Linked DNA regions of Homo sapiens: all the other regions are linked to region 2. The links come from fine-mapping of genetic effects on gene expression. A gene starts in region 2. Each other region holds a variant in brackets. All regions are shown on one strand. Distances are between the middles of the regions.

What was found. PIP is the estimated chance that this variant, and not a neighbour inherited with it, causes the effect. A credible set is the group of variants that fine-mapping cannot tell apart.
Region 1: its variant is the best candidate, but not a certain one, in a credible set for the expression of TRG-AS1 in whole blood (TOPMed, PIP 0.78).
Region 3: its variant is the best candidate, but not a certain one, in a credible set for the expression of TRG-AS1 in whole blood (TOPMed, PIP 0.67).
Region 4: its variant is the best candidate, but not a certain one, in a credible set for the expression of TRG-AS1 in adrenal gland (GTEx, PIP 0.90).

The regions. Positions count from the first base shown.
Region 1 is chr7:38,290,421-38,293,170 of GRCh38, forward strand. It overlaps TRG and the pseudogene TRGV11. Among named protein-coding and RNA genes, the nearest start is that of TARP, 18 kb to the left of the region's middle. The variant C/T (reference allele first, on the strand shown) is at 1,483.
Region 2 is chr7:38,339,818-38,342,567 of GRCh38, forward strand. TRG-AS1 (T cell receptor gamma locus antisense RNA 1) reads left to right here and starts at 1,604. Exons shown (of 4, transcript NR_040085.2): 1 at 1,604-1,982. It also overlaps TRG and the pseudogene TRGV6.
Region 3 is chr7:38,374,059-38,376,808 of GRCh38, forward strand. It overlaps TRG-AS1 (T cell receptor gamma locus antisense RNA 1), which reads left to right. Exons shown (of 4, transcript NR_040085.2): 4 at 1,499-2,750. Among named protein-coding and RNA genes, the nearest start is that of TRG-AS1, 34 kb to the left of the region's middle. RefSeq lists a silencer at 430-724. The variant C/G (reference allele first, on the strand shown) is at 1,504.
Region 4 is chr7:38,390,417-38,392,916 of GRCh38, forward strand. It overlaps AMPH (amphiphysin), which reads right to left. Exons shown (of 21, transcript NM_001635.4): 19 at 1,332-1,601. Among named protein-coding and RNA genes, the nearest start is that of TRG-AS1, 50 kb to the left of the region's middle. The variant C/T (reference allele first, on the strand shown) is at 1,494.

The sequences.
Region 1 (2,750 bases), 49 kb before region 2:
GCCTCCATCTTGTGCCTATAAAACCCCTGAGACCCTAGTGGGCACACACACAAGTGGCTGGACATCGAGAGGAACACTAATGTGGAAAAGCACACCTACAGAGACTGGCGGGCTGCAGGCCATCGACTGGCAGAACAAAGCAGAGTTTGGCGAGACTGGCGGGCTGCAGGCCATCGACTGGCAGAACAAAGCAGAGTTTGGCGGGGTGGTTGGAGGAAAGCCTGGCCGCTGAGCAGTCAACTCCAGGGGAAAACCACCTTCCCACTCCATCTCCCGTCTGGCTCCCCCATCTGCTAAGAGCTACTTCCACTCAATAAAACCTTGCACTCGGCCAGGCGCGGTGGCTCACACCTGTAATCCCAGCACTTTGGGAGGCCGAGGTGGGCAGATCACGAGGTCAGGAGTTCGAGACAATCCTGGCTAACACGGTGAAACCCCGTCTCTACTAAAAATACAAAAAATTAGCCAGGCATGGTGGGGGGCGCCTGTAGTCCCAGCTACTCGGGAGACTGCCCAGGAGAATGGCGTGAACCCGGGAGGCGGAGCTTGCGTGAGCCGAGATTGCGCCACTGCACTCCAGCCCAGGCGACAAAGCGAGACTCCGTCTCAAAACAAAAACAAAAATAAAAAACTTGCACTCATTCTCCAAGCCCACATGTTATCCAATTCTTTCAGTACACCAAGGCAAGAAACCCAGGGATACAGAAAGCCCTCCGTCCTTGCAATAAGGCAGGGGGTCTAATTGAGCTGGCTAAAGCAAGTCACCTATGGACAGCCAAACTAAAAGGACACCTTGTAACACAGGCCCACTGGGGCCTCAGGAGTTATAAGCATTCACCCCTAGACACTGCTGTGGGGTCGGAGCCCCACAACCTGCACGTGTGCATGCTCCCCCTAGAGGTTTGAGGAGAGGGGCACCAAGAAGGGAGCCACATCCTTATCGCACGCCCTGAGAGGGAACAAGAAAACTTTTCCCGTTTGGACACCATGAATCACCAATGTGATTCTGCACACCAAGGGAGCAGAATCTAAGATGTCTTCCTGCAACATTCCAGAAGAGCTGCAGGGAGGGCAGGCTCCGGCTGGGCACCCAGCTGAGCAAACCGCTGTGGTTGCCCACATGGAGAAGGATGTGGACAGGCACAGACTCGGAGATAGTTTCTGTGTAGGTTATCTTGACAACTCTAACACTGTGGTGCCTAATCCAGCAGGCACAGTGGTACACCACCTCATCTTCTTTCTCTAAGAACTTTATTTTCAAAGTGGAAGTGGAAGTGTGAGCATTTTTACTTACCTCAAGTTTCTTAGTCTTCCCACCTGAGCAATCTTGAGCAGAGATTGTCAAGAAGACATGTAATAAATATTCTAAGCCTTTGTTTGGTTTCTGCCAGTACCAGTGTATGATTTTACTGCTAAAGCCTTGGATGGATGCCTTCCAAGATATGTGGGCACTCTTATTTGCTGGTCTGGAAATAGATATTT[C/T]AGGTTGTTCCAACTGCCCAAGTGCAATTGCAAGTGAAGAGAAATTCCCATAAGCCAACGATACGTGAAGAGGTAATAATACAGAATGACTTCAATCTCTTCTGTAGACTGAAATGATTAGGGGGCAACTCACAAACCCAGAGGGAGAAGAAGATAACAGCTACTACCAGTGGCATGCTTTCTGCCAGTCTGGTTCCCCAGGGAGAAGGTAACCCTGTTCACTGGAGGTCTCAAGTCAGTGGCAGAAGGCGGGGCTGTTGAGGTCTCTCAGAAGTACTAGATGAGGTGGTTCCTTAGGGTTCTTCATGAGCTGCTACAGTTATGAGCAGTTCCAGGGTTTCCTGCATCCCATGAGTGCTGGGCAGATCGGGTAAGTGGGTTAACTATCTGGAAAGAAATACCTAGTATGAATGTGTACCTCTAGGGGTGGGGCAGGGATGTTCTCTTGCCCACTCTCCCATTCCCCAGCAGTACCATATTGCAGAAATATGGCTTTGAAAATGTGAAGATAAACCTGCAGTGTTCTGTCCCAATGACTATCTTTCTGTAATTAGCTGTTAATTCAGAACTGCAGTAAGAAACTTGACAAGCATCTAATATCCATTTACAACTTGCTACTTGTCTAGATGTTTTCTTATATTATTTTACTTGATCCTCTCAACAGTCCTGTGCAGTAAGTTTTATGATTATCTCCATGTGTCAAATGAGGACAACGGCAAACAGAGTTTGAGTGACTCATTCAAAAACACAGAGCTGGTAAACATAAGAACTCAGGTGAGTAGCAGTCATCCGTTAAGGAAAATCTGAGTAAAATGAGATATAAAAATTGACAACAAAAGGCACCCATCATTTACTTTTCCTTTGAATTTTTCTCAACATATTTATGGTTGGAAATAGAATAGCTTGGTATTGTTCATTGCAGCACTATTCACGGTAGCAAAGACATGGTATTAACCCAAATGCCCATCAATGATAGATTGGATAAAGAAATTATGGTACATATATACCATGGAGTACTATGCAGCCATAAAATGGAAGGAGATCATGTCCTTCACAGGAAAACGGATGAGCTGAAAGCCATTATCCTCAGCAAACTAATGCAGGAACAGAAAGCCAAACACTGCATGTCCGCATTTATAAGTGGGAGCTTAATGATGAGAACACATGGACACAGGGAGAGAAACAACACACACTGGGGCCTATTGGCGGGCAGGGTGTGGGGAAGGATAGCATTAGGAAAAATAGCTAATGCATGCTGGGCTCAGTAC
Region 2 (2,750 bases):
CCAAATGCATCTTCGTTAAAATTATGACTTTAGTTCCATGTAAATAGTTTACATATGCAAAACAAATATGAAACAAAACAAAATAATACAACAAATGTCTAAAATTTTAAAATGAAAACTGAACAAATAAACTAGCTATATCAATGTTGGCATGAACATGTAAAGAAAAATTATTTCAAATGATTTTGTTGAAAAAATATTCGGATTATGTACCCAAAAAGGAAAGAAAGAGAGAGAAAAGCAAGGAAGGAAGAAATGAAAAAAGGAAGGAAGGAAGGGAGGGAGAGAGGGAGGGAGGGAGGGAGGGAAGAAAAAATAATAAAAGCAAGCAAGGAAGTAAGAAAGGAGAGAGAATAAAAGGGAGGGCAGAGGGAGAGAGTGTTTAACTGCATATCTAGGCCTAGTGTTTTAGTGGTATTTATAATATTGCCTATATTGTTATAGACATAAGGAGTAAGCAGCACTCTCAGCTGCGATCTCTGGACCATGATTGGATACATGATTCAGTATAAATACCCTTCCCATTTGCTGTCCAAAATATCTCGCTTCACAGCTGGACCCTAAGAAACAGAGTGAGTGGGCCTCCCCCATGTCCTAGGAGAGCTGAGAAAACCTTGCTCTCAGCCAGGCTGCTTAGCTGAGGCTTAGCTGAGATGGCAGCTTAGTCTTCAGGAAAGTCCTGGGGGAGGGTGGGGAACAGGGTACAGCTGCTGACAGGAGAGTGTAATATTAGGGGGGAGATCAGGAGTTAAGCTGTTTCTCTTTGTACAGAATACAGTAAATTCAGGGCAGGAAATGAGAGGGGACGGCTCTCTCTTGTGTACCAGAAGCAGCCACAAGACAGATATTCAGTGTGGTGTAGAGCAGGTCTGAATCACTCTGCCTGTCCTAGGTGGCACAGTAATAGACCCCAGAGGCATTTTCATTTAGTTTTGGAGGTATAAATTTCCAGCTTATCCTTCTACTTCCATAAGTATCATGCTTTCCTGACTGACTCCTGATTCCAACATATCCCTGGAGTTGCAGATGTCATAGTACAGAAGATGCTGTGGGGCCTTCCCCTCCTGGCGTAGGTACCAGTGGATGTAGAAGGCATTTTCTACAGGAAGATCACAGGTGATTACAGCAGATGACCCCATCTGCCTGGTGCCTGACTTTATTTTCGCTTCCAAGTTAGTAGATATCTGACTGGCTGCAATGGGAACAACATAAAATATAATGAGGTATTCCTTAGTATGGCGTCCCTTGCTAAAGAAGAAAAATCCAAAACAAAACCCAACCTGTGAGCCTCTCTGTAGGCAGCACACTTACCAAGAGACAGGAAAGCTAGAAGCAGGGCTAGGGCCCACCACATGCCTTCGTCTCTGGGGTCTTGAAAGAAAGGGCCCAGATGAACAGGAGCAGAAGATCCTCTCAAAACTCAGGTCCCACTCAACAAGGAAGTGATCCCTAGCACAGAAGGCAGTGGGGAAGGCTGGTCTTCCTGAGTCACAAGCAGGGAGAAGTGACTGAGGATGTGTCTTAGGGGACTCCCACGCCTTCCTTCCAGAAGGGTGGTGCCTGGGAGGACCTGCAGAGGAGCTCCTGCCTCTCTGCTCAGGCCAGTTCTGCAGCACCCTCTGTGGCAGCTGAGAGCAGGCCCTCTGCAGAAGAGAGCCAGGGGCATGGAGAGTTCAGGCCTCCAGCAGAGGGAGTGCAGATATGGGGAAAGCTGACCCCTGGAGTCAGCAGGCCCAGCCCTAGGAGGGGGCAGTCCCACAGCAGGCTCACACCCTGCCCTTCAGAGTTGCAGCAGCTAATGCTGATGCCAGGACCTTGTCCTGCCAGGAAGCCTCTGATTAGGGCTGTGAACCAACTTCCTTTTCACATCTGCAAGGACACTTGGAGGCAACTGCCCAAGGCCACTCTGAGGAGGGTTGAATGTTCTTTATTAAAAGGACTGAGGATCATGTGTGTTGGTGGGCCTTGGACTCTGCTCTAAGGTAAATGTGTGTGTGTGTGGCGGGGGGCGGGGGGGGGGGTGCCTGTAATCCTGTGGGTGTGATCTCTTTATTAGACAATTTTTGTTCATTAAAGTAGGAGTGTAAGTTTGTTTGTTTGCTTGTTTGTTTTTAAAGTAGTACTGGGTGCCATGTCATGAAATATTTGGAACATACTTGAACTAAAAACTTGTTATATATCTGAACTTCCAAATTCCCTGGGTATTGTATATTTTATTTGTCATCCCTACCCTCAGAAAGCAGACTAATATCTGCAGTGCACCTGGATTCACAGATGGAAATAAGGGGACAAAACAAGTACAGTAATATAATTGTGAAAATTCAGTAGGGCATGCACAGATTACCACCACCTCTGTAAGAAGTATATAGAGACACATGTTTGAAATATGCATAATGAGATGTAGAACAATGTCTCTCTTGGTTGTTGTGTTGTCCTAGCTCAAATTTTGCAGTTTCTGCTGTCATCACAGCTGGGAATGAGAAAGGGAAGGGGCTCCAGTTGGTCTCCCTCTGCCTCTGGAGCACACGTGGAGGACATGAGGCTTCCGCAGGAACAGCTCTGAAAGCTGAGTTCTCGGGTCCCTGTGAAGGAGGGAAGCTTGCCTGCCTTGGAGCGTGAAAAAGTCTTGCTGGACAGAAGTCTCACGGTTTAAAACTGGGAAGGGAGAGGATTGAGATCACACTAGAATGCACAGAAAATTCTTAAAACAAAAAAATGAGAGAAACTTCATCAGAATGTGAAAAGAACTA
Region 3 (2,750 bases), 34 kb after region 2:
TCTCAGCTGCCAGTAAGAAAACAACCTAAGATACTGTTGAATAGTATTCATTCAGTTAATTATGGTGGACCTCAAAAAGTCATAGGAATTTCCTCTAGCACTGTTAAGTAAATAGTTAATGGCCTTTTATTAAAAGACTAATTTTTAAAGTCATAGCAGAAATTCTTGATCCATTAAATGATAGCAAATACCCTTTGAGTGTCAAACATTGTATATATTTATTCTTTTCTTGCAAGCAGAAAATAGGTGTTACTTATCCCCATTTTTCAGATGAAATTGAAGCTTACAGAGAGGTTAAATAACTCCTCGAGGTCACCTAGCTAATAAACAGCACACCAAGAATTTGAACCAAACAGACAAGTCTCCAGAGCCTGTACCATAAGGGAACTGCTTGGCTGTTTATGATTCAGGGATTAATTTCTGTCTTCATGAAGCTGCTGCATTTTGATACAAAATGTTATATTTCCGATTTGATTTCAACTCCCAGCTTCATGCTTTAAAAGAAGTAGTGTTTTGACTGCATTTAGTTATTTGTACAAACCTGTAGCACCCCCTCCTGGCCATTCGAGGTATACCATACATGTTATATTACCCCAATATTAGACCCCAACGAATGGCAAAGACTTCGTATAACGAATGGAAAGGTCCCCAAATGCAAGGCAGGTTCCAACTGCACACCTTATGTGCTTGATAGTTTTAGGCAAGAGACTCCTTCTTGCAGGGCTGTCATTTCCCCCGCCTCAAAATCAGAGGAGTGGGTGATGTTTTTGGTCTCTTCTAGTTCTAATTGTGATTCTGAATTGAATTGATAAACTGGATATTGAAGGAATAGGTGTGGTGAAATGAAAAATGGAAGCTTCTAGTTTTTATTTTGATCCAACAATAATGCATGTTATTTGCTTCCTCTTGACTCAACATTGCTCTAGGAAAAGCCTATTCTATATAGACTCCTTAACAAAAACATTGATTCCTAAAGGTCTTCTGAATGTTTGGATAGCCAATGGCTTTGCAGCCCAGCCTGGCCACTACATGAGGCCGATGACTTTAACAAACTTATTTCAGGCCAGTGTAAATGCAGTGTTCAAAAATCCCACCTAAGAAGGATGGGAACACGGAGGTTTGTGTAGGTAACATGCAGGTGTGTGCACATGTACCCAAGAATGCACACACACATACATGGACACAACTGCAATTGATACAAAAGGCTGAACTGTGCTGATTCTTACAGGTACTTGGTTCTGGCCCAGTCTGGAAAAAAAGAAAAGATCCTTAGTCTAAACATGCATACAAAATAGAATTCCCACCATGCTTTGATGTTATCTATTTATAATTTTCAATGTTTCAATGTTTTGTGGTCTTAAAAATTACAAGGATTATTATCAATAATCCTTGTACCTAATGTGCCTTGACTCTGAAGGACATGGTAACTGCCTGTGGTTTAGAAAATGTTTTGGCTAAAAGACAAGTTCTCCTCCCTCCTCTCATTTTTATATCACAGAGCTG[C/G]ACGGGGGCTTGGATCAATGCCTGAATCCAGTGTTCCTGAGTGCAGAGCATCTTTGCTCTGGGTGAGCTTTGACCATCCTGGAGAAGAAGGCTGCTGCGGGGGTGGGACAAAGCCAAGACCAATGCCCAGCGGCCAAGGCCAGCCAGATGGCTCTGTGCTGGCAGCCAGTGTACACGGATTTTACCTGAAGGAAAATGTCACATTTTCCACAGACAACTGAAGAAAGAGAGCTCTTTGGATTACCCTAATTGTGATTTACTCATTGGAACCACTGTTTTGGATTGTCCAAAATTAAGTCTCAAAGCTTAAATATGAGGCTTCAGGGAGTTATCCTGAAATCAGTGCTTGGTATCTTCTTGTTTTTTGCTTGTTTTTTAAAACCTTAATTCTCATATTTTTCTGTCATATTTCTCAGTGCCTGGTACATTATCACCATTAATCCATGCCAGTTATGTACAGTTTTGCATGTTTGTTTTTTATTTTACTCTTTTCTCTCCTTCATTCCCTATTCCTGTTCCCCCATAGGTGCCCAGTCTAATGTATTTGATATCTGTCCTTAGAGCCTCCGTATCTGTGAAGACTAGAGTCATGCACTTCATCACATTTCAGTAACGATGGGCCGCATGTACCACAGTCCCATGAGATGATAGAGGTGCAGAAAAATTCCTGTCATCTAGTGACATCGTAGCCATCATAACATCACAACACGACTCTCATTTGTGGTGACCCTGGTGTACACAAACCTACTGTACTGCCAGTTGTATAAAAGTCTAGCACATCCAGCTACGCACAGTACATACTTGAAAATTATAATAAATGACCATGTTACTGGTTTATGTAATTACTATATTATACTTTTTAATCATTATTTTAGAGTGTACAACTTCTACTTGTAAAAAAAAAAAAAGTTAACTGTAAAACAGCCTCAGGCAGGCCCTTCAGTAGGAATTCCAGAAGAAGGCACTGTTGTCCTAGGAGATGACAGCTCCATGTGTGTTACTGCCCTGATGACCCTCCGTGGGTACAAGATGTGGAGCTGGACTACAGTGATATTGAAGATCTCGACCCTGTAGGCCTAGGCTAATGTGTGGCTGTGTCTTGATTTTTAGCAAAAATGTTTTAAAAGTGAAAATGTTAAAAATAGAAAACAGTTTATAGAATAAGGATATAAAGAAAATATTTTGTACAGCTGTATAATTTTTTTTTGTTTTTCTTTTCCTTTTTCTTTTTTTTTTTTGAGACGGAG
Region 4 (2,500 bases), 50 kb after region 2:
AAAGATTTCCTTAAAATTTTATTATAGAAAAATATTTTAAAGCAGAAGAAATAACATAATGAACCCCTATGCGTCTGTCACCCAGTCTGAATCACTCTACTGTCATGGCTGATTTTATTTTTCCCACCTTTCCCTCAACTCCACCCCTGAGAGTAAACATTGGCTTTTAAAGTGTGTATTTTGCCATTGAGCATATTCATAGAATCACAAGCTGTCAGAGCTGGAAATGGATTATGTTATCCCTAAATTAATTTTTCTGATTGGAAAACTGATACCCAGAGAGAGGGTCTATATGGGGTGCCTTAGGTTATTCTACAGTTAGTGAGGAGGCCAGAATGGGCCCAGCAAGCTCCAGCCGTGCTTGGCACAAGGCTTCTTGGACTGCTTGTGCTCCAGTTAAAACGGAACCTGGCAGGAAACAACCCCTTATCTAGAGGTTTAGCTTTTCCTCCAAATTAATTTATTCATAAATCCATTATAGCCACCCCTGTCCCCACAAGAGGTAGCAAGGTAGCAGTTACTTTCTAATGGAGAGAGACAAAGACAGAGAGAGAGAGAGAGAGAGAGAGAGAGAGAGAGAGAGAGAGAGAGAGAGAGAGAATGATACAACATTTTACACTTTAGAAGAAAAAGAGCTGATTTTTAAATGTAAAATCAAATTTAAAAACTTAAAATTCCTTTTCAGATTCTATCAGGAAACATCTGAGACAGGAAACACTTAGGTTAAGCCAGTGTTTTTAGGTATTTACTAAGTTTTTTTGGTAAGAACCCTTTGGTTTATGAAGGCTCTAAGTAGCCTGTCTGAGCAAAACCTTCTTCCCATTAACTTAGCCGCCTTTTTTTTCTGCCTTTTGGTGCAAGTTCATTCATACATGAATCCATTAATTTACCAAATATTTATGGGCTCCCTACTCTGTGTCATGCACCCTACAAGGTGCCAGAGTTGACTGAAGGATTGCTGCCCGACCCCCAGGGGATATAGCCGAGTCAGGAGCTCTTGGTGATTCCAAGGCCTGGTCTGAGCCAGGCTCCACAGATTCACAGGCACCTGGGGGAGTAGAGAGGAGGGAGGGCTGGAAAAGACTCTCCCATTCATTACCCAGGGGCATACTGTTTGCCCTGTGGTGAACTTCCCTTTAATTATTCTTTGTTAAAACATGAAAATCTATTACTGTAGTCCTGGCTTGTCCAAGTGATGTTGTGGTGAAGGGAAAGCAGTTCACAGAAATAATAATTGCAAAAAGTAAAAGTAAAAACTGGAAAACCAAAGGCTTGAGCAAAAGGGCCTTAAAGCAAAAAAAGGATAAATGAGACTTAAAAAATAAGAATACCTTGTAGAGAAAGCCAGGAGGCAATTCCTGAGAGGCCTCCCTTGCAGATGCTAGCTGGTCAGCAGCCCCCATGGCTGGTGCAGAAGGCGTGGGCTGAGGGTCCTGGATAGGCTTCTGCTCCGTAGCCAGCTCCGGTGTCTCGCTGGTGGGGCCCGGAGGAGC[C/T]GCGTCCTCGGTGGTCTCCTTGGGCTCTGCACCTATAGTTATTTCGTTTTCTCCTTCCTCTTCATGGTTGGAGGCAGGCTCTATGACCACCGAAGGAATGACCTTCTCCTGGGGGAAGAAAAACCGTGGCGATGCCCGGCAGGGCCTGGAAAACAGAACCTCCTTGTCCTGCACAACCTGCCTTAGCCCCCAGCCCAAAGCTGGGGCTGCCACTTCCATACTTCCCCACTAGCCAGACTCAGGTCTGGGCCTTCCGCTGTGCCACACAGCCTCCTTCTGTTCCTCCTGAGGCCTAAACCCTTAGTGGAATTAATTTCTGGATCCTTGAATAGCCAGGCAGTTTGGTAAGCATGAGGTTTCGGTGGGAATTGGGAGGAGGGATAGGGGATGGGAGACAGAGTCTTGAAGGGTGAGGGAGGCCATCCTGAGAGGGATTGCAGGAGGAGTCAATGCAGGCCGGCCTGGTTCTTTTTTTTTTTTTTTTTTTTTTTTTTTGAGACAGAGTCTTGCTCTGTCGCCCAGGCTGGAGTGCAATGACGCGATCTCAGCCCACTGCAAACTCTGCCTCCCGGGTTGACGCCATTCTCCTGCCTCAGCCTCCCGAGTAGCTGGGACTACAGACACCTGCCACCACGCCCAGCTAATTTTTATATTTTTAGTAGAGACGGGGTTTCACCGTGTGAGCCAAGATGGTCTAGATCTCCTGACCTCGTGATCCGCCCACCTCGGCCTCCCAAAGTGCTGGGATTACAGGCGTGAGCCACCACGCCCAGCCCCGCAGGCCAGCCTGGTTCTTGTCCCACGGAACCCTAACTCTTGCGGTTGGCAGTTCACCTCCTGTGAGCCCCTTCCTCCCCTCCCCCAGTCCCAGGAGGCCCCCAGTGCCTGAACCATGCTTGCTGATGAAGATCCAGCCGGGGTTTGGAGATCATCCACTAGTCCTTCGCTTGTGATTATCATTCCAGCCCCACACTGCTGTGGCCGCTGGAGGGACCACACCTCCACAA